4 separate regions of the Homo sapiens genome follow, and regions 1, 3 and 4 are each linked to region 2. The links come from fine-mapping of genetic effects on gene expression. A gene starts in region 2. Each other region holds a variant in brackets. All regions are shown on one strand. Distances are between the middles of the regions.

Region 1 (7,550 bases), 88 kb before region 2:
CAACACAGCAAAACCCCATCTCAACTAAAAATACAAAAATTAGCTGGGCGTGGTGGTGTGTGCCTGTAGTCCCAGCTACTGAGGAGGCTGAAGCATGAGAATTGCGTGAATCCAGGAGGCAGAGGTTGCAGTGAGCCGAGATTGTGCCACTGCACTCCAGCCCAACTCTGTCTCAAAAAATATATATGTATATTTTATATAATATATATTTATATATTTTATATTTTTGTTTATATTTTATATATTTACTTATAATACATTTTTATATTTATTATGTACATATACATAGATATATATAATATCTCCCAGTAAGTCTCCATGAATTCCCCCCACTACCCCAAGGTGGGGGTGACGTGCCCTCTCGGTGCTTCTAGAACATGCACTCTTCCTACCACAGTGCCTGTCCTACTTATTCCAACGCCTTGTCACTTGCTTTCTCACCCACTAGATGACAAGCGCCTTGAGGAGACAGTGCGTCTGTGAGGCCTCCAGTGCGTGCGTTGCACATGGGCAAACTGTAGGAACTGAGTGGCTATCTGATGAACAGATAGATAAAGAAATGAATCCACGTGTAGATGCATGGAAGCAGGGAAGGGGAGAGGCGCTACAGATGACCTTTAAGATTGCCTTAAGCTCTAATATTTTATGATTATAGAGCTTTGAACTCTTTCTTGGGGGAGAGTGGTCCAAGGTATTTGGAAAACAGTACAGTGATCATTGTAGAGTCAGGTGGTCGTTTCCTTCCAATGGACATTGTTTGCTTCCAGAGGGGGCGGGGCCTGCTCCTCCCATTCTACGGGGAATTGCGTGTTCCCTGGGCTGAGCGTGGCCCAGAACTTGGCAAGATCTCTGGGGCGTTCATTTTTGTCACCCAGCCCCGGTAGGAGGGTGGATGGGTGGGAGGGGAACTGTTTTGGGAAAGAGTGCTGGGGAGTGTTTGTGTGTGTGATGAGTCAGGGCCCGGAGCTGGGAGCCTTCCTCTCTGCTGGCTCTCTGTGGGGGTAGTTCTCACCAGTCACCGGGAGGGTAGAGGATCACCAACTGTCTTCGGAAAGTTTGGAAAGTTTTCTTAGTCATTACGCCAAGTCAGCTGGAGCTTTATGTAACGGGGACAAGCAGAGGTATGATGGCATTGGAACGGCTGCTCCTCTTTTCGGCAGCAGCTCTCACCCGTCCCCTCCTAACTGCCAGGGCAGTGACCGGCCCTACATGTAGGATGTGGCATCTGGGGGCTAAGGGTCCCTGCTGTAGATGTCTGATTCCCGCTAGGAAAGAACTTGGGTTGTCTTAGAGAAGCCCTCGGGAAGGGCTCAGTGCATCTCGGAGGTGCTCCATCCTCCTTTTGTTATCCCACATCACGCTGGGGGTAAGAATCAAGCCAGGGTCCCCAGCACTCAGGACTCTGGTGCCTGAGCCGGAGCCGCAGAAGACCTGCTTCCCTGGCTACCGTCCCTGCTCCGGTGCTGCTGGCCGAGGCAGCCCATCTCTGCTCTCTTATCTCCTCGCTCTCCAGGCACCGGGAGATGCATACTGGGTTTCCTGTCTCTGACATTGAAGCCAATTTGCCTATCACAATTTGAGTTCTGTCAATGACAGCTCCAGATAGGGCCCGAAATGATATGCGTGTGTGGACACGCGTTCGTTCGCGTGTTTAAACGGAAAGAGATACAAAGAGAAGGAAGGATGGGAGAGGAGAGGTTTCGGGTCTGGGAGGAGCGAGGATGATGGTGACTCACCTGGCTGAGGGGACGAGGGGCACTGAGAAGCAGCAGCAATGCCCAGAGGTCTGCGGAGAGTTGCAGGGCCTTCCACAGGCCTCTTCCAGGCAGCTGAAGGCATCTTAGAGAAGCTGGGGCTTGTCCTCCTTTGTTACTTGCGGGGAGGAAACTACCCCAGGTCCGAGAACTGCTGGGGCCGGAAGCTTTGGAAAAGATGAGAAGGAGCATTGTTTTGGTTGGGAAGCAGAGCGCTGAGGAGTAGCATGGCCGCAGCATCACGCCGGGTGACTTCTCAGAGCAAGAAAGAACGGCTGCGGTTGAGAAATTAAGGTAAGAAATGAGGATACATTTCCTGACAGTGAGGAGGGCTGGCCTGACCCAGTGGCCCCAAAAGAGAGTTTCAAAATCAGGCCTCTAGTCGTCGAGCATAGACTGAACAGCAGGAGGGAGAGCTTAACAAGGAGAGGCTGGCAGGGCAGGACTAGCTGGTGGTTCTGGGACCTTCCAGCCCCACGTTACAGCTCTGGTCCTTCCTCAATGCCAGGAAGTTGTGCGGGCACCAGAGGCCTCCCGGAGGCCAGAGGGAGAAACCAGAAGGGAGGACTGCAGAGGGGGCTTGAGATGGAGTGGGACCAGAGCAAGGGGAGCAGGGGCACGAGGATGTTTGGGAGAGAGGCCGGAGAGTTTCATACCCGGGCTGGTTTCGGATCCATCCCCGGATGGGTGGGGACCAGGGTGGTGGGAGAGGTGAAGAAAGCAAGACGAGACACAGCACCTTCCCCTGCTCAGGAGCCTGGGGCAGGGCGGCGCACGACAGCACCTTCCCCTGCTCAGGAGCCTGGGGCAGGGCGGCGCACGACAGCACCTTCCCCTGCTCAGGAGCCTGGGGCAGGGCGGCGCACAGCAGCATCTTCTGCGTGCCGTCGAACTGAGAGGCCAAGCTGAGTGGAGGCTGGAGCTGTCTGTGAACCCAGTAAGGAGAAAGGAAGGAGAGAGGGCTGTGAAGGAGGGAGAAAGTTCCCCAGCGCACCACCAGGTGCCAGGCAGGGACAGCGTGGAGACAGCTGGAGGCTGCGGGCCTGGGCAAAGGCAGGGTTAAGCTTTGTCTGAAATGAGATCTTTATTTAGACAGTTGCCTTCTGCCTCTGGGCTGGTGTTAAGACCATGGCAGGCTCTATTCCCATCCTCACAGGCTGAGCCCCACGTCCCTGGAATTTCATGACCTCCCACACCTTCTTGCCTATTCCCAGAGGGTTGGGACACTTTTTGTTGTTTCCAGTAGATTATGTAGGACTTGGGGGGGTCTAAAGCAAGCCCTAACCCAGTGGCATTTAGTGCCCATCTTTGATCTGTGTCCACCTTGCCCTGTTCTTTGCTTGGATCTGTTTGTGTGACTGATGGCTCAAGCAAGGCCCTCCTTCCTCAGTCTACAGCTGTTCCTGCCTCTTCCTGGTCCCTAGAATCCACAGATCCGGCCATGGTGTCTCAACTGCATTGCTGGGTTTCCTTACTGGTCAGCTTCTAAGAGTAGAGAAGGCACCAGAGCAGAGAAGTTATGCCCGAAGCCATCAGAACCGCACTGCCCAGGCTGAA[T/C]GCAGGATTCGCACCTGCCAGCGGTAGCCCTGAGCAAGTCACAGAATGCTAGGGAAGGCTGGGAAGAGCATTTGCCTTGAAGACGAGCTGTGAGGACTGGAAGCCAGCATGCATGGAACGTCATCTTTGCTTGTGGCTTCAATGTGGGAAGCTCTCAGGCAGTGTGCTCTCCCATATGTAATCATACTTGCCCCAAACACAGACAACGCATTCCAGCGATGCTAGCCGCCTCCCTCCTGTACCAAGAACAGCCCATGCTCAGCCCCAGTTTTATGCACATAAACGTCCTCCCACCTCCGGTACAGCTACTCACACTCCCCCACCTTGAGGCCGCACTAAAGTGCCGCCTCCTTCCCAAAGCCTTCCCTGATCAGCCCAACCCATGCAGATCTCTTCCTGCTTTGCCTTATTCTGCTCCAGCCAGTGCCTTGAAATGTAACGTTTCCATCATAGAATTATCCCATTTGGGAGCTGGAGGAGTCCTTAGAAATGGCTCCAGTCAGTTGCTCTTAACCAGAAGGGTTAATAAGCAGGAGGTACATCCCCATGACATCCCGGTGGCACCTACCGCTCGCCTCGCCGGTTGGCCATCACAGTCCTACTAAACTTGCTGCTGCCTCGGATTCCTCCTCAGCACAGTGCTCCAGGCATCAGTACCCATCAATCAGATGCGCCACTGCCATCCACAATCCAGGCCATGAGAAGTTGTCTATAACTTGGTGTAGCTGGAGCTTTTGGAAGTACAGGGACCTGCTTCAGGCCTGAGGCCTGGGGATAGAACTCTGGTCTTACCTCTATCCAGGGCTCCTCAGACTATGCCAGGGGCCTCTTTAATAGTTTTTTGACTCTTCTCTGCCTGTGAGTCTTGCCTTCCCAACCAGTGAATTTGAGCTGTGATATTTGTGGGGATGTCCTCCCCAGCGCTGAGCACGAGACAGGACATGTCACGTGCTCACTGGTTGATGTATTGACTGCTTGGAGCTTTCCCCCAGCTCCTCTAACTTGTGTTCAGAGCTCAGTCAAAAGGGCAGGGGGAATTGGGGTGGCATGGAGACTCAGTCTCTCTGCCGATAGATAAGTCTGCCAGGACTTCCCCGGTACCTCCTCTCTGCCCACAGCAGCCACAGGTATTCTGAACATGCTGAAAGACAAGACAGGGTCTGGACATCAGGAGCCCAGAAAGATCATCTTCGTCCTGTAGCTCGGTGGCTCGGCCTCGGGAGGCTGTCTTGCAGGGCCTCACTGATCATCATTCAGAGGGAGCTGCATGGGGAAGGAGAGGGAGATGGTGCAGTTGGATGCCTGCCTCTCTTGGGCACTGATGGGCTGGGTGAGGGTCTCTTGAAGGGTGGTCCCCCCTTGAGTGGGAGCAGATGGACTGGAGGGGCATGGCTCACGTACAGGTTGGTGGAGGAGCTTCCCCCAACCTGGGCCCTGGAGGACACAGTTCCCAAATGGAGTCTTTTCTTCCTATGCTGTTGAAAGGCGGCACTACCATCTGCTCAGGTCCATGCGCTGGAAACTTTAGGGTCCTCCAGTGGCCCCAGGCCTGTCCCTTCCTTCCTCTAGCCCTCAGCAGGTTCTCCTGCTCTCTTCTTGCCAATGTGCGGCCTCCTGGTCTTGCTGCAGACCCAGCCCTCCTTCCCCCCGGTCTCATCTGCAGGTCTGCAGTGCCCCTGGCTGAGCTTTCTAGACATGTCACAATGTTGCCAGATTTTTCTTTCTGAAACTTAGATTTTATGATGTCATTCCCTGCTTGAAAATCGTGGTCACCGCACTGTCTTCAGGAGAAGGTGAAACCCCCCAGCCCAGGCCTTCTCAGCCTCTGTGCTCTCTGCATTCTGGGGGGGCTCTGCTCTGCTGTGGGGGCTGCCCTGTGCATGGTGGGTGCTTAGCAGCACCCTGGCCCTACCCACCAGGGGCGGGGAGCAGCCTCCCTCCCACTCCTGCAAGTTGTGACAACCAAACATGTCTCCAGCCATTGCCAAATGACCTCTGAGGGGTAAAATCGGTTGAGAATCACTGTGGTAGCCTATAAAATAGGATAATAATAACTAATGACAATGCTTACTTACTCAGCTCTGTGCTAACAGCTTTCCATGAGGTCTCTCATTTAATCTTCAAAATATCTCTATAGGGAAGGCCCTATTAGTATCTCCATCTTACAGATGCTCAGAAGGCAGAAGGAGTCCAGATCTTTCAAGATAAAAAGACTTTTTCCTTCCATGTGGGGTAAGAAGAGAGGTAGATAATTCAAAATCACTTCTCCTTCAGGCAAGAGCCACAGAACCGGAGGCAAGTCAGGCAGGCTTGAGCTCCAGTCTGTCTGCTGGCAAGATCTGATTTCTCCCCACGAGCCCCTGTCCACGCTTCCCAATCCCACACCTTCATGCAGGCCAGTTCCCTGCCTGAGAAGTTCCTCTTTGGCCTGGGGAGATCTGTTCATTATTCAGGGCCCAGGCAAAAGCCCCTGTCCTGTTCTCTGTGAAGGCCCCCAGGCCCCAGGAGGAAGAGAGAATTATCCCTTCTGCGTGGCTCATGACCACACACACCCTGGGTGACGAGTCCTGCAATGGCTAATTGTGCAGGCATCTTATTCTGTGCCAGCCTATCTTGGGGCAGGGGTCTGGGGGTGGGGACTCCGGCTGGTCCTCCTTCATCATGATGACATGGAGTGCCTTGCACAGAGCGCTGGATCCCCAAATGTGTGTGGAGTGGAATGCAGTGGGGCAGTAGGCGGGTAGTGGCTCCTTCCAGGACGTGACGCTGAGCCCACTGGACACCAGGAACCACAGGGCCTCCCGGCAGGCAAGGGAGACCGAGGGCCCCTCCTCTGGGCTGACGCAGACTCTCAGCAGAAGACATGGCTTAAGGAGCAACACATGGCTGGGTTTTGGCCGCCTTGGCTGGGGCCTCTGAGCCATGCCTAAACTGCAGACTTGAGGGATGATGCAGCTCAGAGCTTGCTTTGGTGTCTGGAGTAACGAAGGCTCGTGTTCTCTCTCACGCAGGCTTCTAAGAGTGTGTGCATGCAGGCACGTGCTGCTGTGCGTGAGTGCACAGCATGTGTGCTGTGTGGAAAGAGAGGCTGTGGGTGCCCTTTCCCAGGCGTGCCGCATCACTGAGGCACTGGTCATAGGCAGCATTTGCGCATTTCTGCTCTTGACACTGGGTTGCATACACAGTCCTGTCACACAGAGTCAAGGTCCAGGAACCCACCAGCGTTCTAGAGCCTTGAAGAGTGCTGTCCGCTCCCTGCCTGCCCCACGTTGCACCTAGGCAGACGGCAGTCCGAGCTCCGCTCCCCGCCTGCCCCACACTGCACCTAGGCAGATGGCAATCCGAGCTCGCTCTCCTTTCTCCCTCTCTCCCGGCTAGAGGAACGGAGCTCACACAGCATTGACCCCTGCCTGGCCTCTCTAAGCAGTTGCCAGACCCCCTGTAGCTGGATGACCACTGGACTGGGGAGGCGGTCTCGGCCAATGGTGGTGGGCAGGTGGGATCAGCTGAATGAGTCCCAGGAGAAGCCAAGTGCAGAAGCTGGCACTTCGTGTTTCCTATTGCCAACCAGCAGAGAAAGGCCTTCTTGAGAAGAAGTCATAATTTTTGGAAGAGTGGCTGAACAGAGAAGAAACAAGGCACAGGGGCTGGGGCCATTCCCCAAGATAGGCCCAGACTGTGCCTGTGGCCATGTGCCTCATGAGAGTGTGCCCACCTGGGTCGTGTGAGGCAGGGGCTGGGGTGGGGAGGCAGTTATACTTGTGAAGTATGCATAGTGGGTAGCTGTACACCAACCCACGTGAAGAGAGTGTAGGCCGGAGTTTCCAGGGACGTTTCTGGCCTCACTCCTGCTTGCACGTATGCATGGTACGCGTGTGTACATGCCAGAATAAGAGCATGTGCACCCTGTCTGTGTCAGTGTGTCCCTGCTGTACACACATACACCCCACGTGCCTTCATCTCTGCACCTTCAGGGGTACCCACCTCTGGGCCCAAGCTCTAAATTAGCAGACACACACACACGGCATTCATGGTCTCCAGACTCCTCTACATTTGAAAACAGACAAGGGGAAAAAAAGGGCCAAGAGACAAGACGAGCTAAAAATAGCCGAATATAAGCTCTTCAGATCAGAAAGCTCGGTGTTTTAGTGAGTCACCAGTTTTCCAGACTGAGCATGCACGCACGCACACACACATGCAAACACAAACACCGACATCCCGCCAAGTCACGCCCGCATT
Region 2 (7,550 bases):
AGATTGCGCTACTGCACTCCAGCCTGGGTGACAGAGTAAGATTCCGTCTAAAAAAAAAAAAAAGTGACAGGGCCACTGTTCTATTGAGAGGTGGGGAACTGTGTCCTCTCCCTTTGAATTGGGGCAGGTTTTTGACCCTGATGGAAGTGATGCTAGGTGTCTTCCAAGGCTGGGATATGAAGGGTCATATGCCTTTCACCTGGTTCTACTGGGATGCCAGCTTTTGGAACCACCATGCTTTGAGGAAGCCCAGGCAGCCTGCAGAGAGGCCCACTTGAGGAAGAATCACAGCCCTTTGCTGGCAGCCCAGGCTAACAGCCAGCGTCAACCTGCTAGCCACGTGAGTAAGCCATCCTGAAAGGAGAAAGGTCCACACCCCAGTGGAGCTGATGCCACATGAAGTAGAGAAGAGCTGTCCTCACCAGCCAGTGTCCAAATTGCGGATTCAAGAGCAAATGAATGAGCCTTCTTGCTTTAAGCCATGATATTTTGGGCTGGGTTTTTACACGGTAAGACAACTGATACAGTTCCCTATTTATGTAAACACTAAACACGCTCTTTGGTGTTTGTGTTGAGTAAACTGCTTTTATTTAGAACTGCCTCTCCTTTTCACAAGCAGCTGTCCCAACAATTGTTCTACCCTAGATTCTGCAATGAGGGCTGGAACCACTGAGGAAGGTGAGAAGTGACAGACAAGTGAACTATTGTTTTTGAGTCCTCCTTGTTCGATGACTATGAGGAGGGAAGGAGGATAGTTTCCTCTTCTCCTACACTTGAAGCTCCTGTCAGCCCCCTTTCTCACATGTCCTCCAAAGGCCTCTGGGATGTGCAGGTAGGTGGCTACATTTGGTTTTTTTTCATAGACACACTGATAAGACTATTGTTTTGTATTTCCAAAAAGTCAGTACCTCTTAAAAGAAGATGACAGACACTCCCGTATCTGATATACATAGCATTCCTGGATATATTACTGCATTTATTAGTGACATCGATGACATTCAGGTACACCTAGGAGCTGCGCAGGGAAGTGGCTCATGTTCCTCCCTCATGTCCCTTTTGGACATCTGGGGTCCATGCTCCCCTTGAACACTCAACTGGATGTGTCTATTCTAGGAAGGGGCAACCATCCTTTCTGGGTCCAAAGCTCAGCCATACGCCAAGAGGAAAAGATTTGATCAGACTCACTCCTCACTGTAAGCTGATACAGTATATCTCTCTTTAGCTGATCTGAAACCCAGTTGAGACATGTCTAATGATGATGATGATGACGAACTTTTCCCTTTGTATCTTAATTTTCTTCCCCTTCCTCTCTGCCTTCATCCCTTGTTCCACTCTGTTTCCAGTAGAATTATCCAGAAGAAATTTGTTCTCCTCTTTAGATAGATCCTTCGAACCCCTTCCCAACCCAACTCATGTTCTAAAGCTTGTTACGTGTTTTTTTCTTTCCAATTTGACAGACACTTTTGTTGTTGTTTTTGTTTGTTTTTTAACAGGGTCTCATTCTGTCACCCAGGCTGGAGTGCAGTGGCATGATCACTGAGCCTAGAACTCCTGTGCTCAGGCAATACTCCTGCTTCAGCCTCCTGAGGAGCTGAGACTACTGGCATGAGCCTCCATGCCCGCCATCCATTCTGACAGACAGTTCTACTTTCCTAGCAGGAGGCAGAACCCTGAGTAGGACAAATGGATGGCCAGACAAAGCAATCAAGATGGGTGGTGAGAGTGGCTCCATCTTTTTCCTTGCCCTGCAGGCCCCTAGGAGAGGGTTTCTCTGAGACCTGATGTTTCCCACTCCATACCTAACAATGGTGAGGAACTAGGGCCAGGCTTTGTGGATCCGGCACTTTTCTCTAGGCCACAGTTAGCTGCTTAGAGGTTGTGGGAGGAGAAGGATCCTGTTATGACCAATTCTGCAAATGGATTCCAATATGTCTTTACAGTCCCGGGGCCCTGGGAAAGTGTGTAAGTGTGTGTGTATGTATATGTGTGTGTGTGTGTTGGGGGTGGAGTTATTCTGGGTCATGCCACCTGGAAATCACTGCATCAATGAGACCTGGAGATCACTGCATCAATGAGACCTGGAGCAGCTCACTTCATTGTCCCCAGAAAGGCATCTTTGCCCAAGAAGAGAACCAAAATCATGGCTCAGGGAGAGATGGCCCCAAGTTATGCATCTTGAGTGTGTTTGCACAGGTGGAGGGGTGGGTAGGGTAGAAGGTTATTCAACAGTCCTGGTTCTCTGGATCTATCCAGGCCCTCGACCTTTATCCATGTGCTCACTGACTGCTCTGTTGGGGGCCTCTTTCTGCCTCCCAGCTGGCGGTGAGCTAAGAGGCTTCCGGTGTCAGGGAATGCTCCACCTCCGGTGTTCAAGGCCACTTTTTGTGCATGTGTGTGTACCTGTGTGCACGCTTTCCCAGAAGCAAGTCTCCTTCTTGTTGTTTTGGGAGCTTCATGTCCTGGAGCCAGGGCTTTGTGGCTAACGAGTGCTTTGAGAGGATGAAATTCCTGAGCTCTCGCTCGCTGACCCTCTGCCTTCCTTCCTTGGCCAACAGCCCATCCCAGGGAGCGGTGTGATTCTTACCACTGCCTTCACTCCTTGAAAGAACAAACATCTTCACTGCAGCCTCTGAGCGCTGGTGTGAGGTGATTGTTTGTAGTAGATGTTTCCATGACACTCATTTATTTCTTCTGCAAATACAACTGTATTGGGGGAGGGGAAGCAGACAGGCTAGGGTAGGGAGACTGGAACATACGAAGACCTTCCAGTTTCCTATTTACATTCCTCTGTAGGATGAGAAGCTCCTTCCCTTTCCCTGGGTCTCCTCCATCCCAGACTCCTAAAGCTTCCCCCAAACCCATCTTGGTTTCATGCGGCCGAGTCGGGGCTGGGCTCCGAGTAAGGTGGAGAGGGGAGGAACCATGTGCGTGAGGAAGCAGCCTTTATCAGGAGAAGTGGGAAAAAGACCCAACTTTGACTGCTTGGAGTCGGGATTCAGTAATGATGAGCAGCAGTGACCAGCACTGGGGGTGGAGTGTGTGTGCACGAGTGTTCCTGAGGGGTCTGTGGCACTTCGCAGCTGAGCCAATGACTCACTCTAAATCTTAGCGACTTTGAGAGGTCATTTTAGTCATCCCCCGGTCTGCATCACGTTTGGAGGGGGTGGTGCGCTGCTCTGGGGACGTGTCTGGGTGCGGAGGGAGACGGGGTGGGGAGGCGGCGCGTGACCTCTTTGAAAAGATCTCCGGCGAAGGACGTTCCCCGGCTCTCCCGGGCCGCCGGCTCCTGGGTTTCCCCATCATAGAATCAGCATGGTCCTCTCGGGAACTGCTTTTTGCCGGATGGAAACCGGATGTTGGGTTCCATGAGTGGGCGGGGGCTCCACTTCCCTCAGACCTGTCCGGGGTAATTGAGACCCGCCAGGGTCCCGTTAGAAGCTACCATTTCCCTCACCAGAAACTTGCCACGCAGTGTGAGCCGAGAGAGAAGCGGGCAGAGACGCTATACCACCTTCTCCCCGGCAATGCGCATGATTCTGCGGCTCTGTGCTCGCCACACTTCAACGCACCTTGAAATGGGCTCGCCTCCTTCGCGCCGCGACGGGCGGAAGGCTGAGCCAATCGGACCCCCGGCTTGCGGGCGGCGCCCAATAGGCGGGCGGCGGGGGCGGTTCCGGAGGCCCGGCCCGGCTAGGCTTCACCGTGGACCTGGCTGCGCTCCGCCCGGGCGAGTAGTGCAGGTGCCGCTGCGCCGGGGCCGGGGAGGCGCGCGCCGAGCCGAGCGGAGCCTAGGAGGGATGGAGAGCTGGCCACCCGGGCTGCAGGAGCACCGGCGCGGGGCGTAGGCGGCGCGAGGCGGGCGCGAGGCGGGCGCTCGGGCGCGAGGCGCGTGCGGGCGCGGGAGCACTTTGCGATAGGATGAGGCTCCGGGCTGGCGCGGTAGTACTATGATTTGGTATGTGGCCACTTTCATAGCAAGTGTGATCGGCACCCGAGGGCTTGCGGCTGAAGGTGAGTTGAAGTGCGGCGTCCCTCCCCTGCCCCTCCCGGCGCCCTCGGCCCCTCGCGCCCGGCCCCTCGGTTTCCCGGCTCCTTGGCCCCCCGGTTCCCCAGCTCCCCGGCGCGCCTTCCCGCGGGTGAGGCTTGGGCTCCGACGCGGGCCAGGCGGCCCGGGAGCATTGCCGGGGAGGGCCTGGGGGCCGTGGGCTGGAGGGGCGGGCGGGAAGGGGCCAGAGCCCACGGGCTGCCGGGCACTCGGGGAAAGGACGCAGTGGAACCTGGGTCGACTTCGCCCACCACGGGCCCCACGGTGCACACCGGCGCGCCTAGCCCGTCGCCTCCTGCCCGGCGGCCGCCTCCCAGAGCTGCGGGAAACTCTGGCTGCGGGAGTTTGCGGTCTCCGGGCAGGCTGCAGCACGCTAGAGCCCCGCGCCGCGAGGAGCGCCTGCAGGGAGGCGCGACCCGGAGGATCCCTGGGACTGGCGGCACCCGCGTCTAAGGCCCCGGGTTCGCGCGGCCCTGCGGGCGTCCATCGCTCCGCTCGCGCCCCTCCTGCCCACACATCTTGGCAGCTGGAGGTCGGATCCCCCTAGCAGGGGCGCCCGGTGAGAGGAGGATTGATGAGGCCAGCTTCGAGGTGTGTCCGCTTTTGGCTGGACCCCGCCGGCCCCCGCGCCTCTCAGCCGCACCTGGGCCCCGGCCAGGCAAAAGTTCCCCGGGAGCGCGCCGCAGCCGCGCGGGCCCCACGCCGCCCTCCCCAGGCTGCGAGGCAGAGCTGGCTGGGGGCGGCGGCGGGGGAGGGGAGGGGCGGGGAAGGGGGGGTCCCCACGCTGTGAATCCGAGCGGAGGGGGGATTTTCTCTTTCCGCTTTCCTGGGTCTGAGCTGGGGGAGACGCAAGGGGGGAGCCACCGAGTTGGGTGATGCGTGCGTGAGCGCGCGGGCTTTTGCTTTGGAGATGGGCAGAGCGACCTACAAGCCTCTGGGTGGCACCCCCGGCTCTCGGCCCTTGTATGGAAGTGGGAGCGGAGCCTGGAGGGTGCCAGGACTGTGAGCTCAGGGCTGTCAGCGCGCAGACACGACCCGGCTGCGGGCAAGTTCACCAAGCCGGAGGAGATGGCGGCGGGAGAGAACCCGCTGTGGGTGGGAGTCAGCAGGCAGGACTCGCCGACAGAGAACCCTCTCCCAGCGGCATGGGGCGCCGGGTGGGCTGGAGGCGCCTCTCACGGGGTCCCCTCGTCACTCGTCTGTGCAGGGGGGCGTGCTTCAGGAAACTTTCCGGAATGGAATGAATATGTCGCCTCTGCTTCTGAGGGGGGTGGTGGTGTCTGAAAACAGAACGAGCAGAGGGCGAAGCGAAGGGTGATTTTGTTAACTGACATGTTGGTCCGGACGGTTTTAAAACTCTTCATTTGTCAGGTGGGAACACTGAGGCAAGGGTGATGGCGGAAGCTTACGGAACGGGGGGTGGATGTGAGGTGCATCGGGCTGCGCTTGACAGTCTGCCTGTAGCCTCATCCTCTCCCCCATTTCCTTGCCGTCTTCCAATGCCCGCATCCTCCTCCCCTCCCGTTTTTGGTATGTTCCTGCTATGGGACTGTCCCTGAAAGCACAAAAGGATGAGCTGGGATCTTTGAATAGAAAAGAGACGCTGAAGGAAGGCTCTGAAATAGCCTCCGAACCTAAGTCAGGGTGGGCAATGGACTTCTTTGCAAGTTTCAGCCCAGAATAAAGGAATGTGAGTTTATACTGCAGCAACACGCAGAATCGCAAGATAGAAGGAAGGGCTTCCCAAAATTGAAGGCTGCCTGGCATGAAGGTTATGCCCTCTTTCAGGGTGCAGAGGGGTCCTTCTGTCTGGAATGGCTGGACATGTACCCCTGTCTGGAAGCAGAGGGTGACCTTGCTGGTCTTGGGGTCTTTCTTAGCCTCAATTGCTCTGTGTGTGGTAGTTAAGGACCTAGGTCTAGAGCCATATGACTGGGATTCAGATTCTGGCTGTGTCACCTGCCGACCCTGTGACCTTGGACAAATTCTCAACCTCTCTAAATGTCACTTGCTTCAATAGAAAATGTGCCAATAGCATGTACTTTTAGGGTTTTTAGGTGGACATGAGTGTTATAAGGAAACAAAACAACTACCTGTTATATAGTACGTGCTCAGTAAACATTAACATTATTTTCTCAGTGTCCCTGGGATTCCAAGATCCTCCTCAATTTCTTTCCCTTGGGCCATTCAGGGCACTAGGAGCTGAGAATGTGTTGCGGGGAAGTTCAGAAGGCTGCCTGTGTCAGGAAGTAAGACCCCTTTCTGGGCTGACCTTGTCTGGGCAGAACCTCTTGTCCCTGGCATCCCAGGGACACGTGTGCAGGATGTGCGGGCCTCAAAGCTGCTCGGAAGTCCTTTGCAAGGTCTCCAAAGCTGGAGTGTTGTTGGTGGCCAGAGGTTTATGGAAGGACACAGCCCGGGAAGTGAGGGCTTGCAACACACAGCCTCTGGAGAGAGCGGGTGGGCGCCCGCTCGTGTGAGCAGCACCAGCCAGTGTCCACATGCTGCTGAGTCTCCCTGTGAGAGCTCAGCTGTTCCCTGACTGGCAGAGGTGACTTCTGGGGCAGTCCCTCAGCAGGAGGGACTTTGAGATGCCACCCTTAGGATTTGGCCATAGCAGGGGCTGCTCTGGCAGAGGGGGAAAGGGATGATGTTGTGTTGGGACCCGACTCCATCAGCCCTCGGGTGCGGGACAGAGGTTGGAATGGGCTCCTCCTTTTGACTTTGAGTGTGTGTGCCTGGGAGGTGATTAAGGTCAGTGGACAGGTTGGGGAAGTGTGGAGAAGAGAGGGGCTGGAGTGGTACCCAGAACCTGGAAGACAGTGATTGGTGTGCACTCAGTATCTCAGACGGCTGCTGAGCCAGCCCGGGGGAGTTCCTACTCTGTGGGAGGACCCTGGGCCGTGCTTAGCTGATTGTGGACCTTGGATAGGGGAGGAAAGTCCCAGACTTTACTCCCACGGCTGCCTCCTCTGTCTGCCACAGATTCTGTCGTTACATTATCCCTGACTACAGTGTCCCCAAATACAGTGAGGTTCTGACTCAGATCCTGCTGGTAGTTGGGCCATTGCCCTCTACTTTCTACCTGGCCTTGACCTATGCTTCCTTTTGGTAATGAAGATGGGAGGGTGGAGGTTTGGACTCAGAGGTTGCTATCAAGACCCCGTGGTGAGCCTATCGGCTGAGAAGGACTTCACTCAGGAAGTGGTCAGTGGCTGGATGGATGTGTGTGTGTATCCTCAGCACACACATGCTGGGGACAGGAGTGTGTCTGGCAGCCTGTGCCCTGTGGGAAGCTGGGGAGACGGGGATGTGAGAAGGGCTTGGCTGAGGGGCAGAGGGCAATCAGCTTTCAGCCGCGGGCCTGTGGCCCTGCATGTGCTGGTCCTGGAGTTGCAGGGTCCTAGATAGACCTTGAGTGGTTTCGTGTTTATGGCTCTGAGACAGAAGGCTGGAATCTGGTTACAGAGGAGCAGAGGCTGCCTCGCTGGAAGATTCTGAGCCC
Region 3 (7,550 bases), 100 kb after region 2:
AAAAAGCATATACAGATCTTTACCTACAGCATATCCACAAAAACAACTCAAATAGATCATACGCCTAAATTACATTTAGGCTATTATAAAATGATAAAACTTTTAGAAGAAAACAAAATATTCTTCATGACCTTAGATTGAGCAGACTTCTTAGATATGATGCCAAAAACATATTTCATACTTGAAAAAATATTTGAATTCATTAAAATTAAAACCTTTTTGCCTTCAAAAGAAAACATTAGGAAATTGAAAGACAAGCAAGAGATTGGGAGAAAGTACTTGCAAATCATAATTTGATAAGGGACTTGCATTCAGGATATGTAAAGAACACAATACTCAATAAAAAGAAGACAACTTAATTTTTTAAAAAAATAAATATTTGGATATTATATCAACTTTTATATATATAACATATATATAAGTTTTGTGTGTGTATATATATCATATATATCAAAATCTTTATATATAATGATATATAAAAATCTTTATACATGTTATATGTATAAAAAGATTTAGAGATATATAAAATATATATAAATTATATATATGTTGGTATAATATCTAATATCTATATATCTAATATATATCTAATATATAGTTTATTAGCTATCTAATATAATATATATCATATATATCAAAATCTATATATAAAGATTTAGATATATATAAAACATATATATGTTATATATATGTTGGTGTGATATCTAATATATAGTTTATTAGCTATCTAATGTAATATAAACAGATTATCAATATTATAAGCTATCAGAAAAATGCAAGTTAAGGCAGATGATATACCTCTTTACACACCAACTAGAATGTCTATTATAAAAAGAGATAATACAAATGTTGTGAGGATCTGGAGAAACTTGAGCCTTCATATCTTGCTGATAAAAATGTAAAATATTACAGAAAAAAGTTTGACATTTCTTAAAAAGTTAAATGTGTATCAAATATTTAAAGGGGAACTACTATTCATACTTTTACAGACTCTTCCAAAAAACAGAAGAAAAAAGAAAGTATTCCAACTCATTCTATGAGGTTTAAAAAATCAAGAGGAATTGAATGCTACAAAACCCTGCTACCAAAACCAGACAAGGACATCAAAAGAAAATAAACTATTGCCCAATATCTCTTATAGATGTAAAAATTCTCAACAAATAATAGCAAACTGAATTCAGCACATATAAAAAGGATCATACTTTATTACCAAGTGGGATTATCCCTGGAGTTGGTTTAACATTTGAAAATCAAAAACTAATGTAGTACACAATATTGATAGAGTAAAAGCCACAACCACATGGTTCACCTCAATAAATGCAGAAGAAGCATTGGACAAAATCCAGTGCTTTTTGATTATTAAAACACTCCAAAAAGTAGGAATAAAAAGTGAACTTTATAAACCTGATAAAAAGCATCTATGAAAAAATTCTCAACTAACACTATCCTTAATGGTGAAAGACTATACTTTTCTCCTAAAATCAGGAGCCAGGAGCAAGAAAAAGATGTTTGTTCCTTCAGTTCTATTGAATAATGTATAGCCAGGACAATTAGGCAAGAAAAATAAATGAAAGGCATTCAGATTGGAAAGGGAGATGGAAAACTATTTGCAGACGACCTGATCTTGTACATAAAAAATTCTAAGGAATTCACTAAAAACTATTACAAGAAATGAGTTCAGCAAAGTTGTGGGATACAAGATTATTATTCAAAAATCCACTATACTTCTCTATACACTAGCAATGAAAAACCCAAAATGAAATTAAGAAAAAAATTCCACTTACCCTAGCACTAAAAAGATAAATACCTAAGAATAATAACAAATGAAGTGCAAGACTTGCACACTGAAAATGACAAAACTTTGTTGTAAGAAATTTAGGATCTAAATAAATAGAAATAGATGTTTATGGATGGAAGACTTAATATTGTCAAAAGGGCAGTACTCCCCAAACTGATCAATAAACCCCTATTAAAATGCCAGTAGGCTTTTTTTATATTCTAAAATTCATATGGAAATTTGAGGATCCCACAATAGCTAAAACAATCTTGAAAAAGAACAAAGTTGGAGAACTCAAACTTTGTAGTATGTTAAAGCATACTATAAAGCTACAATAATCAAGACAGTGTGGTACTGGCATAAGGATAGACACATTGGTTAATTGACAGTCCAGAAGTAAACTCTTACATTTATAATAATTTGATTTTTGACAAGGATGACAAGACAATTCAGTGGAAAAAGAATATTCTTTTTAATAAATGGGGTGGGGACAACTGGATATCTACATGCAAAAGAATGAAGTTGGGTCCTCTACCTCACACTATTTATAATAATTAACTAAAAATGAATCATAGACATAAACACAAGAGCTACAACTATTAAACCCTTCGAAGAAACAGAGGATTAAATCTTTATGGTCACAGGCTGGGCAACGGTTTCTTAGATTTGACACCAAAAGTACAAGAAACAAAATAAAAAGAGATAAATTGGGCTTCATAAAAATTCAAAATTTCTGTGCTTAAAATGACACAGTTAAGAAAGTGAAAAGGCAACCCACAGAATGGGAGAAAATATCTGTAATCATATATCTGATAAGACACTTGTACAAGGGATACATAAAAATTCTAACAACTCTACAATAAAAGACAAATAATCCAGTTATAAAATGGAAAAGGATTTAAGTATATATTTATCCAAAGAAGAGGTACAAATGGCTAATAATCACAGGAAAAGATACTCAGCATCATTAATCATTAGAGAGAGACAAATCAAAACCACAGTGAGATACCACTTCACACTCACTAGGATGGCTAAAATCAAAATGACAGGTAATAATGCTGGCAAGAATGTGGAGAGATCAAAACCCTCACACATTGATGATGGGAAAGTAAAATGATTCAGACATTTAAAGAACATTTTGACGGTACCTCAAAATGTTAAACATAGGGTTACCATATGACCTGGGAATTCTACGGCTAGATGTAAACCCAAGAGAATGAAAACATATGTCCATACAAAAACCTGTACACAAATGTTCATAGGAGCATTATTCATATTGCCTCTGTTTATAGAGATAATCCAAATGTCCATCAGCTGATGAATGGATAAACAAAATGTGACACATTCATATAATGGAATACTACACTGCAGTAACAAGGAATGAATTGCTGATATCTGCTATAATGTGGATGACCCTCAAAAACATTATCTTCAGTTAAAGAAGCCAGTCACAAAAGACCAGATATTGCATGATTCTATTCATATGAAATGTCCAGAATAAGCAAGTCTGTAGAGACAAAGTAGATTAGTGGTGGCCTAGTGCTGAGAGAGAGGGTTGGGGGAAAATAGGGTTTGACTACTGATGGGTACGGGGTTTCATTT[T/C]TGGAGTGACAAAAATATTCTAAAATTAGGTCGAGGTGATGGTTGTACATCCATCCAGTGAGTATACTAAAAACTATTGAATTGTATATTTTAAATGGGTGAATTTTATGGAATATGAATTATGTCTCAATAAAGCTGTTAAGAAAAAGTAAAACATGTTAAGCATAAAGTTATCAATCTAGTCCTAGGAATTTACCCAAGAGAAACAAAATATATTTCCATTCCACATAATATTTTTTCAGATGTTCATCACAGATTACGGTGCATGGGAGGAGGACTAGATTGCAGTTCCAGCAGAGCGGCATGTGGAGGCCTGCATTATGAATTTTAGCTCCAGATTGACTGCAAGAACAAACAAGCAGTCCTGAGAGGACCCACAGACCCTCTGAAGCAAGTGGACTTCTCCTGCAGGACCCAGGAGACACCCCAAATACCGTGAGTGCCCCGAGTGTGGAAGTGGGAAAGGGAGACCCTCCTCTCCTGAACACACACCCCCACTGGAGAAGCTGAAGGACTGTTTGTGGGAGAAGTTTCTGACTTTATCTGGAGCTGAGTCAAGTTAGAGAGCCCAGCTGAGTGAAATACAGGGGTAGAGAAAGCAGCAGGAAGGCCCTGGGAGCTTGCTGGCTCCCCAAGCAGCCCATTCCTGCCTGGCACCACAGGGATCCATCAGGAGAGTGGCTGGAGGAGCAGGGGGTAAAACTCCACAGGGAGAAGGAATTCTCTAGCTGAACTTTGTAACAGTTTGAATGGGGTGAGAAGCCTCCTGGTGAGAACACGGAGGAGGGCGGGAATATGGCTTGCAGACTTCATGGTGGGGAATAACTAAAGCCCTTTTCTTTCACAGCTGGGAGGCGGAAAGCCCCGGGCAGGTTTTCAAGCCGTATCGCCCTCTGACTGGAAAAAGACTCAGGGCTCTTGCAGAGGGCACAGTGTGAATGAGACTAGTCTTTCAGATTCTGTGGGAGCTGGGTGACGCCTGTGACTGCTGGCTTTCCCCCACTTCCCAGACAACCTGCATGACTCAGCAGAGGCAGCCATAATCCTCCTAAGTACACAACTCCAGTGACCTGGGAATCTCACTCCCGTCCCCACAGCAGCCGCAGCAAGACCCACCCAAGGAGAGTCTGAGCTCAGACATGCCTAGCCCTGCCCGCACCTGATGGTCCTTCCCTACGCACCCTGGTAGCGGAAGACAAAGGGCATACAATCTTGGGAGTTCTAGGGCCCTGCCCACCGTTGGTCCCTCTCCACACTACTACAGCTGATGCATTCTGGAAAGCAGCATCTTCTGGCAGGAGACCAGGCAGCACAAAAACAGAGCATTAAACCACCAAAGCTAAGGACCCTCACGGAGTCCATTGCACCCTCTGCCACCTCCACTGGAACAGGCGCTGGTATCCACAGCTGAGAGGCCCATAGATGGTTCACATTACAGGACTCTGTGCAGACAACCCCCAGTATCAGCCTGGAGCCAGGTAGACTTGCTGGATAGCTAGACCCAGAAGACAGACAACAATCACTGCAGTTTGGCTCACAGGAAGCCACATCCACGGGAAAAGGGGGAGAGCACTACATCAAGGGAACACCCCATGGGATGAAAAAATCTGAACAACAGCCTTCAGCCCTAGACCTTCCCTCTGACAGAGCCTACCCGAATGAGAAGGAACCAGAAAACCAACCCTGGTAATATGACAAAACAAGGTTCTTCAACATCCCCCCAAAATCACACTAGCTCACCAGTAATGGATCCAAACCAAGAAGAAACCCCTGATTTACCTGAAAAAGAATTCAGGAGGTCAGTTATTAAGCTAATCAGGGAGGGAACAGAGAAAGGTGAAGCCCAATGCAAGGAAACCCAAGAAGTGAAGGGAGAAATATTCAAGGAAATAGATAGCTTAAAGAAAAAACAATAAGAAATTCAGGAAACCTTGGACATACTTTTAGAATTGCTAAATGCTCTGGAAAGTCTCAGCAATAGAATTGAACAAGTAGCAGAAAGAAATTCAGAGCTGGAAGACAAGGTCTTCAAATTAACCCAATTCAACCAAGACAAAGAAAAAAGAATAAGAAAATATGAACATAAACCCAAGAAGCCTGGGTTTATGTTAAACGACCAAACCTAAGAATAATCAATGTACCTGAGAAAGAAGACAATTCTAAAAGCTTAGAAAACATATTTGGGGGAGTAATCGAGGAAAACTTCCCTAGCTTTGCTAGAGACATAGACAGGCAAATATAAGAAGCACAAAGAGGCCAGGGACGGTGGCTCACACCTGTAATCCCAGCACTTTGGGAGGCTGAGGCAGGTGGATCATATGAGGTCAGGAGTTCAAGATCAGCCTTGCCAACATGGTGAAACCCCATCTCTATTAGAAATACAAAAAATAAAATAAATAAAAAATAAACAAACAAATAAATAAATTAGCTGGGCTTGGGGGGCATTCACCTGTAATCCCAACTACTTGGGAGGCTGAGGCAGAATTGCTTGAACCTGGGAGGTGGTGGTTGCAGTGAGCTGAGACCATGCCACTGCCCTCTATCCTGGGCGACAGAGTGACACTCCATCTCAAAAATAAATAAATAAAGAAAGAAGCACAAAGAACACCTGGGAAATTCATTGCAAAAAGATCTTTGCCTAGGCACATTGTCATCAGGTTATCCAAAGTTAAAATGAAGAAAAGAATCCTAAGAGCTGTGAGACAGAAGCACCAACCTATAAAGGAAAACCTATCAGATTAATAGCAGATTTCTCAGCAGAAACCCTACAAGCTAGAAGGAATTGGGGCCCTATTTTCAGCTTCCTCAAACAAAACGATTATCAGCCAAGAATTTTGTATCCAGCAAAACTAAACATCAAATTTGAGGGAAAGATACAGTCATTTTTAGATAAACAACTGCTGAGAGAATTCTCCATTACCAAGCCACTGCTACAAGAACTGCTAAAACAAGCTCTAAATCTTTAAACAAATCCTGGAAACACATCAAATCATAACCTCTTTAAAGCATAAATCACACAGGACCTATAAAACAAAATATAAGTTAAAAAGCAAAAACGAAATACAAAAAACAAAGCAAAGTACAAAGGCAACAAAGAGCATGATGAATGCAACAGTACCTCACATTTCAATACTAACTTTGAATGTAAATGGCCTAAATGCTCCACTTAAAAGATACAGAACCACAGAATGGATAAGAACTCACCAACCAAACTATCTGCTGCCTTCAGGAGACTCACCTAACACATAAAGACTCACATAAAGTAAAGGGGTGGAAAAAGGCATTTCATGCAAATGGACACCAAAAGCGAGCAGGGGTGTCTATTCTTATATCAGACAAAACAAACTTTAAAGCAATAACAGTTAAGAGAGACAAAGAGGGACATTATGTAATGGTAAAAGGCCATGTCCAACAGGAAAATATCACAGTCCTAAACATATATGCACCTAACACTGGAGCTTCCAACTTTATAAAATGATTACTAATAGACCTAATAAATGAGACAGACAGCAACACAATAATAGTGGGGGACTTCAATACTCCACTGACAGCACTAGACAGGTCATCAAGACAGAAAATCAATGCAGAAACAATGGACTTAAACTATACCTTGGAACAAATGGACTTAACAGATATATACAGAATATTTTATCCAGCAACTGCAGAATACACATTCTATTAAACAGTGCATGGGACTTTCTCCAAGACAGGCCATATGATAGATCATAAAATGAGCCTCAATAATTTTAAGAAAATTGAAATTATATCAAGCACTCTCTCAGACCACAGTGGAATAAAACTGGAAATCAACTCCAAAAGGAACCCTCAGAACCATGCAAATACACGGAAATTAAATAACCTCCTTCTGAGTGAGCATTGGGTCAAAAACAAAATCAAGATGGAAATTAAAAATGTCTTCAAACTGAATGACAATAATGACACAACCAATCAAAACCTCTGGGATACAGCTGAGGCAGTGCTAAGAGGAAAGTTCATAGCCCTAAACGCCTACATCAAAAAGTCTGAAAGTGCACAAACAGACAATCTAAGGTCATACCTCAAAGAACTAGAGAAGCAGGAACAAACCTAACCCAAACCCAGGAGAAGAAAGGAAATAACCAAGATCAGAGCAGAACTAAATGAAATTGAAACAAACAAACAAAAAAATACA
Region 4 (7,550 bases), 36 kb after region 2:
CTGCAGGACACGTGGTATGAGTTCCGGGTTCTGGCCGTCATGCAGGATCTGATCAGCGAGCCCAGCAACATCGCCGGCGTCTCCAGCACAGGTATTTTGGGTTGAGGGTGCTCTTGCAACTATAGGGACATAAGCCCCAGAGCTGCATGGGGGTCATTTTGTGAAATGGCTACTCCACGAGGAGAAGCTGGATTGGAAACTAAGGCAGTGCCTGGTTGCAGCTGCGTGAGTCATAGCCTTTCTTAAGCCCACCAGACCCATATTTCCATGATGCATGCTATTTCGTGAAGCTCAGAAGCTGAGTTTCTGACACTTGTATAAGACAGCCACAGAAAGAAATTCAACTAATCTTCTCATTATAGTAGTCAAAAAGGACTTGATTGAAGTGCTATTTGCTGTACATTTTCAGTTTCCTCTTGTCGGGGAGGGGCTGTGAATCGGAGGAAACAACAGGTCAACCATGTTTATCAAATGCTTGTGATAGACTTCTTTATAATTATGTGGGTTTTATTTGGAAAATTGTTGTTTGGTGTTTTCCTCCCTTCCTTCCTCTCTCTAGATTTTTAAGGCTAAATAAAGCCAATTCCCTAGCATTTTCTCCATTTATCTTTCTTTCTCTTGGCCCTGGTCCCATTTCTACACATCTTCTCTCCAGCTATAGTTCCTGAGACATAGCAGGTTCCTCCGCCAGTGAAGGGGTGTCCTTGGTATGGGAAAAGGCTCTTGCTTATAAGCAAGTGATGGCATCATTTCCTTGGGCACCGCTCACCCAGAGTCCCCTGGGACCAGGTGACAGTGACCTCGTCTGAGGAGCTCATGCAGCAGGACTTGTAGAGTTGGGGAAGTGCTGGTGTGGGCACACTGCAGGGAGCACGAGAGCAGGGGCAGGTGTGGAGTGCAATTTCTGCTTTATACATTAGGCATCAATGGGCTTTAAAAAAAAAAGGTTGTGTCCTACAGGTAGCAGAACCCACAGTCTTTCTTGACTTCTCTGTGGGGAATAGACTCAGAGTTGGAGGAACAGGGATGAGAGCTTGCATCCAAGGCTGGAGCTGAAGAAGGGGTGTTGTGTGGGCCCACCCCTGACCATTCTGTGCTCAGTAGCTCTATGCCAGCTCCTGGCAGGAAATGTGCCTCGTCAGACACTTCCACACAGGGGAAGGAGGAGGCAGCAGCCTCAGCATTCCCTGTATTAGGTCCCCCATTTCCAAAGGCTGTAGCTTTCATTTTCCCCTCAGACAATCAGCATCATCTGGATTATTTTTATCCATTATTATTATCGATGCAGCAATGAATTCTGGCCAAATACGTTACAATCTATCGATTCTGCCTTTGCTGAACCTAAGCAGTGGCACTTACCGACACAACTTTCCTATGAGTATAAGATGGTAGGCTGGTGTCTAGTCTTGGCTCGGTCATAACGAGCTCTGTAGACTTGGGCAGGAAAGGAGGACGTTCAGCTCCTTATGGTGAAACGAGAGATTTGGCTCCATCTCTGCTGTCCCTGCCAGCTCTAGGGTACTTCCGTACCTGAGATGACCAGGATGCGAATCTTCAGGACGTTGCATGCCTGTACTAGAAGGGGAGAGGATCTGAATTTTGTAGTAATAATCCCTCTTCCTGCAGTCGTATTTTATCCTCAAGTTGCCTTCACACCTGGGCTCTCCTTTTGTAGAGACACTGGTGTGAGGCAGGAAATCCCAGACTGGGAGCAGGCAGCTGCGTTCTGGTTTGGGCACTGATGGCAATATCCACGTAAGCGGGTCTCTCTAACCCAGTGGATCAGAGCTCTTTCATTTAGAGAATGAGAACAGTATGTGTGCTCTGTGTAGCTCATGGGGTTAACATGAGAAGAGCTGATAACGTGCATGAAGGTGCTTTGCAGAAGGCAAAACCCTAGATAAGTATAGATTACTCTTGAAGTCATTATCCCCATGGGGACAGGCATAGATGTTTTCTTCTTTACACCCTTTGGAGAGATTGACTTCTGTAGACTCTCCTCTCTTCTTCCTCTTCGTGACGCCATCCAAACCTCTTCAGTGCTAGAGTTCAGCTTGGAGCCCGAGCCTTGACACTGTCTGTTCTACAAAGGCAGGGTGAAACACTTGGGGACTGAAGGTCGGAGCAGGTGAGGTCCCGGGGAAGGATGGGCTCATGAGTGCTCCCCACCCTCCCTGCAGACATCTTCCCGCAGCCGGACCTGACCGAGGATGGGCTGGCGCGGCCTGTGCTGGCGGGAATCGTAGCTACCATCTGCTTCTTGGCAGCTGCCATCCTGTTCAGCACCCTGGCTGCCTGCTTTGTCAACAAGCAGCGCAAGCGTAAGCTCAAGCGCAAAAAAGGTGGGTGTCTGTCCCCTTCCCTTGCTCTCCCTGGCCCGGTTTCAAATGCCCCCCATCAAGAGAGGTGGACCATTTTTAGCATGGCCCCCCTTGGAAATAGGGACATTGAGATCTTGTGGGTAGAGCTGCCAGTGAGACTTGATTTGAAAGTGGGGGTAAGAAGCAGGGGTGGTGGGGAGAGGCTGCTGGGGCCCAAGCTAGCATGAAGGCAGGGGCCAAAGATGCCCACTGTGAGCAGCTCCTTCCCTGTGCGGTGGTGCTCCGGCTCTGTCAGCCTCTGCAGATGCGCGTGCTGCGTGGTTGCTGGCTTGGCCTCAGCAGCCTCTCCCCTTCTCTTTCCTTCCAGACCCTCCACTCTCCATCACCCACTGCAGGAAGAGCCTGGAGTCTCCGTAAGTGTCTCAGATCCTGGGAGAATTGTGCTGTTCATGGCAGGGGGCGCATAGGTAGACCGCTCGCCTTACCCAGCCCCATGTTAGTGTTTCTAAGCCATTTCTTCTTGATTGACCTGTGTGTTAATTGTACTTGCCCAGCCCCATCTCAGTGTTTCTAAGCCATTTCTTCTTGATTGACCTGTGTGTTAATTGTAAGTTGTCCACGCTGGTAGAGGGAGTGGCAGTGCAGATGATCCAAATTAGCCAGTAATCAGTTTCTCTTCAGCCTTGGAATGTATTTCTTTAGTGTTTTCCCACCCTAGCAGATTTGCCTCCTTAATATGTGTTGCTTAAGTTGATATTAAAGTGAGCTTGCTTGTCTTGAAAAGAGGGGAATGAAGCTGGAGGTGTGCTTAGAGCACAGCAGAGAGGGGGCAGGCCAGCACAAAAGTGAAGAGGCGGGTGTTCACTGGAAAGACGGATGATGGGGGGGGCCGGGCGCGGCGGCTCACACCTGTAATCCTGGCACTTTGGGAGGCTGAGGCAGGAGGATTGCTTGAGGCCAGGAGTTCAAGACCAGTCTGGGCAACATAGCAAGACCCCGTCTTTAAAAAAAAAAGGAGGATTCACGTCCAGACGGTGGAGAGTTGGCCAAAGCATTTCACACCACGATACACAGCCAGTTTTCTTGAGCGTGAGGATCCTGGGTGCTGGGTGGTTGCCGAGAGAGGGAAA[G/A]GAAGTCCTGGCCAGCACACTGCCCCACCTCATCCCCTCCCGGCTCTTGCTCCTCCTTGCAGCTTGTCCTCTGGCAAGGTGAGCCCCGAGAGCATCCGCACGCTCCGAGCGCCGTCAGAATCCTCCGACGACCAGGGCCAGCCCGCGGCCAAGAGGATGCTGAGCCCCACCCGTGAGAAGGAGCTGTCGCTGTACAAGAAGACCAAGCGGGCCATCAGCAGCAAGAAGTACAGCGTGGCCAAGGCAGAGGCCGAGGCAGAGGCCACCACGCCCATCGAGCTCATCAGCAGAGGCCCTGACGGCCGCTTCGTGATGGACCCTGCCGAGATGGAGCCCTCGCTGAAGAGCAGGCGCATCGAGGGCTTCCCCTTCGCCGAGGAGACGGACATGTACCCCGAGTTCCGCCAGTCGGACGAGGAGAACGAGGACCCACTGGTGCCCACATCTGTGGCCGCCCTGAAGTCCCAGCTCACCCCTCTGTCATCCAGCCAGGAGTCCTACCTGCCACCACCAGCATACAGCCCTCGGTTCCAGCCCCGCGGGCTGGAGGGCCCCGGTGGCCTGGAAGGTCGGCTTCAGGCCACAGGCCAGGCCCGGCCCCCTGCCCCCCGGCCCTTCCACCATGGCCAGTATTATGGGTACCTCAGCAGCAGCAGCCCTGGGGAGGTGGAGCCGCCCCCGTTCTACGTGCCAGAAGTGGGCAGCCCCCTGAGCTCCGTCATGTCGTCCCCGCCCCTGCCCACCGAGGGGCCCTTTGGCCACCCCACCATCCCCGAGGAGAATGGAGAGAATGCATCCAACAGCACGCTGCCCTTGACTCAGACACCTACAGGAGGGCGCTCCCCTGAGCCCTGGGGCCGGCCAGAATTCCCCTTCGGGGGGCTGGAGACCCCAGCGATGATGTTCCCCCACCAGCTGCCACCCTGTGATGTGCCCGAGAGTCTGCAGCCCAAGGCCGGCCTCCCCCGAGGACTGCCCCCCACCTCCCTGCAGGTGCCCGCGGCCTACCCGGGCATCCTGTCTCTGGAGGCACCGAAGGGTTGGGCAGGCAAGTCGCCCGGCAGGGGCCCTGTCCCAGCGCCCCCCGCCGCCAAGTGGCAGGACAGACCTATGCAACCTCTGGTAAGCCAAGGGCAGCTGCGACATACAAGCCAAGGCATGGGCATACCTGTGCTGCCTTACCCCGAGCCGGCTGAGCCGGGGGCGCACGGCGGCCCCAGCACATTTGGCCTGGACACCCGGTGGTATGAGCCCCAGCCCCGGCCCCGGCCTAGCCCTCGGCAGGCCAGGCGCGCCGAGCCCAGTTTACATCAAGTGGTGCTACAGCCCTCCCGGCTCTCACCTCTGACCCAAAGCCCCCTCAGCTCCCGCACCGGCTCCCCTGAGCTCGCCGCCCGTGCCCGGCCTCGCCCGGGCCTCCTGCAGCAGGCAGAGATGTCAGAGATCACCCTGCAGCCGCCGGCTGCAGTCAGCTTTTCTCGAAAGTCTACGCCGTCCACAGGCTCCCCCTCCCAGAGCAGCCGCAGTGGGAGTCCCAGCTACCGGCCCGCCATGGGCTTCACCACTCTGGCCACCGGCTACCCTTCCCCTCCACCCGGCCCCGCCCCTGCTGGGCCTGGGGACAGCTTGGACGTGTTTGGACAGACGCCTTCCCCTCGAAGGACGGGGGAGGAATTGCTCCGACCGGAGACCCCACCACCCACGTTACCTACTTCAGGGTGAGTGCGCCGCCTCTTCCGCCACCCGCACCTGGGCAACTTCCTTCCCCCACCCGCCTCGCCCTGCCCTCCACCCCGTCCATCCGCCCGGCGACAGGGCTCGTGCGGACATGCCGCACCGGCGTCCCTCGGAGAGGAGTTCTGGCCGCCGCGGTTTGGGCGGGGTGCAGTCGCTGGGGCGCAGCGGGCCCACCTGCCCAGGTGCCCTGCCGGGAGCATGAGGCGTCTTCTCCGGCAAGCCCTGAGCTCTCGGCGGGCGCACCACCTACCAGGGAGCGGCGGATCACAGCGCGTGCCCTTGCGGGGGTGGACCCCGTCCCTCTTGGAGTTGACGGCTCTCCGAGTCCCTGCGGTCCTGGCATCGGGCAGGGGTCCTGGGGGTTGCCCACACACCTCGTGTCTAGCCTCCTTTTCTTCCCCGGCCCCTGCTGCTTGCTAAGCAGGACCCCGGAGCCTGACTTCTCCAGACCACCAGGCCAGGGGCCTCCTGTTCCCGAACTCCTGGCCCTTAGCAGCCCTAGTGAGCGCCGGACTCCAGCCCCCTCCTCAGCCTCTCCTGGAGGCCCAGAGAAAAGGGTCAGGCCTTGTGACCATGTGCAGGACACGTCCCCCACCCCCCCCCCGTATACCTCGCAGGAAGCTGCAGAGAGACAGACCAGCTCCCGCGACCAGCCCGCCTGAGAGAGCACTCTCTAAACTGTAGCAGCTGGTATTCCAGGTACCAGGGCCTGGACGCCTGCCTGTGCCTCTTCTTCTCTCATCCTTCTTCCCTGCCGTCCCCGCTCCTCCTCCCCCTGCCCCTCCTTCCTTCTCCAGTCAGTCTTTCTCTCTCCTATCTTCCTTCCTCACCATCGCCTTTGGGTTCGGAAGAGCCGGCCACGCCTCTGTAGTGCCCCCGGATACCCCGTCCCCCGCCCTCTTCTCTCTCTCTCTCTCTCTGGCTCCGTCCTTTGGTCTCTCTTCTCGATGTAGCCGCCTGTGGAGGGAGCAGAGAGTTCCAGAGGAGGCTGGCCTGGTGGAAGGCAGGATGGGAGGTGGTCGAGGAGGAGGGAGCCCAGCGCCCTCCCCCTGCCCCGTCCCCCACCCTCCCTGGTACCTGGAAGTCCAAGGTCACCTCCCACCCGCAGCCCCACCGCGGGCTGCTCCGGGGCCGGCCGAGGAAGGGGGTGCGGGGCTTAGGGCGCAGGGAGGTGGAGGAGCCGCAGCCGCCGCCTGTGCGCGGAGGTGCCGCGGCCGCCCTGTCTCTGTGCTTTGTGCGCGCTCAGCTCATCTGCTTCCTTCCATCGTGTCTGGGTCTCCGTCTCTCTCCTCCTCCCTCCCCCACGCTCCGGCCTCGCCTGTCCGGTGCTCGCTGTGCCCCTCCCTGCTTCCCTCTGGGTGTGCGTGGGCGGTGCCCCCCGGCCGGTGTTGGTAACTGCTTTGTTTCTGATTGATCTCAGCTATCTGGGCAGTGTTGTCGAGACAAGCCTCTCCTCAGCTCAATAGGTAAGGGAGCTCCTCGGCTGGGCGGGCGGGGGCGGGCAGGCGGACGGGGCTTCGGCCGGGCCATTGCTTCCTGGACAGGGGATCCAAACCATGTCCCCTCACCGCCCCGTGGGGTGGCCGCTGCCGCTCCTCGATCCCCACGGCTTCTGGGTTCCCCACATCGAGCCACGCTCGGCACCGCCTAGCTGCAGCTTCTGCCCCCCACCCCCCGTCCCCATGTCCGGCCCCTCTAGAGCCCCCTGCGGCTCTCCTCACTCCTCGCCAGCCTCGCCAGCCTGCTGCCAGTACACCCAGGGCCTCCCACAGAAGCCCTGGGGCCCTGCATGCACCCCGAAGGGGCCCAGAACACCCGAGATCTGCTTTGCATCTCTGCACCCTTGGGGACCTCTCTGGGGCCCCTCTGGTATCCAGGAAGAGCCCCCCCGCACCCTATTCTCCCAGCAGCCCCAGGCATAGCATCCCTTCTCCTGGGGTGGCTGGCCCCTCACCAGCTTCTTGAGATCTTCGTGGTATTAGGCTCTCTCGAGGAGTACAAGGTTGGGATGAGCCCCACTTCTTCCTTGACAGTGGGGTCCTCTGCAGGGTCAGGTCCCTGCAGTCCTATGGGGCTTTGTAGCGAAATGTCATCACTCCCCTGTGCTCCTTGCCTTCTGCAGCCTGACCTTGGTAGTCACAGGACTGAAATGTGACCTAGCCCTTGGGTCCACATTGCTTTCAAGGTCCCTGTTGTAGCCTTGTCGTCCTCCCTGGGTCATGCTGTAGGGAAAGGGTCTTAGGAGGACCTCCCCGAGGGGAGGGGGCAGGCTTCCCCTGGGCAGACAGGCATTGAGCTGGCAGGAAGTGAAACCCCCAGGGACCAGCACTGTGTCCCTCCCCCTGCCCCCGCAGTCAGCCTC

Alleles and levels. Positions count from the first base shown, and alleles are read on the strand shown. Sizes are in standard deviations (SD) of each study's normalised expression. Not every link is listed here.
With allele C in place of T in region 1, the expression in unexposed skin of the gene that starts at base 3,734 in region 2 is lower (small effect, 0.29 SD a copy in GTEx).

What was found. PIP is the estimated chance that this variant, and not a neighbour inherited with it, causes the effect. A credible set is the group of variants that fine-mapping cannot tell apart.
Region 1: its variant is the best candidate, but not a certain one, in a credible set for the expression of IGSF9B in unexposed skin (GTEx, PIP 0.72).
Region 3: its variant is the best candidate, but not a certain one, in a credible set for the expression of IGSF9B in whole blood (INTERVAL, PIP 0.69).
Region 4: its variant is the best candidate, but not a certain one, in a credible set for the expression of IGSF9B in whole blood (INTERVAL, PIP 0.83).

Annotation. Positions count from the first base shown.
Region 1 is chr11:134,041,132-134,048,681 of GRCh38, reverse strand. It overlaps LINC02731 (long intergenic non-protein coding RNA 2731), which reads right to left. Exons shown (of 3, transcript NR_027276.1): 3 at 7,341-7,550. Among named protein-coding and RNA genes, the nearest start is that of LINC02731, 13 kb to the right of the region's middle. RefSeq lists enhancers at 1,018-2,217, 2,066-2,566, 2,567-3,067. The variant T/C (reference allele first, on the strand shown) is at 3,312.
Region 2 is chr11:133,953,152-133,960,701 of GRCh38, reverse strand. IGSF9B (immunoglobulin superfamily member 9B) reads left to right here and starts at 3,734. Exons shown (of 20, transcript NM_001277285.4): 1 at 3,734-4,011. The coding sequence starts at 3,948. RefSeq lists a silencer at 3,556-3,905.
Region 3 is chr11:133,851,416-133,858,965 of GRCh38, reverse strand. No RefSeq gene overlaps it. Among named protein-coding and RNA genes, the nearest start is that of SPATA19, 9.7 kb to the right of the region's middle. RefSeq lists enhancers at 3,467-4,666, 4,299-5,184. The variant T/C (reference allele first, on the strand shown) is at 3,380.
Region 4 is chr11:133,917,361-133,924,910 of GRCh38, reverse strand. It overlaps IGSF9B (immunoglobulin superfamily member 9B), which reads left to right. Exons shown (of 20, transcript NM_001277285.4): 15 at 7-91; 16 at 2,181-2,342; 17 at 2,689-2,734; 18 at 3,514-5,169. Among named protein-coding and RNA genes, the nearest start is that of MIR4697, 23 kb to the right of the region's middle. The variant G/A (reference allele first, on the strand shown) is at 3,452.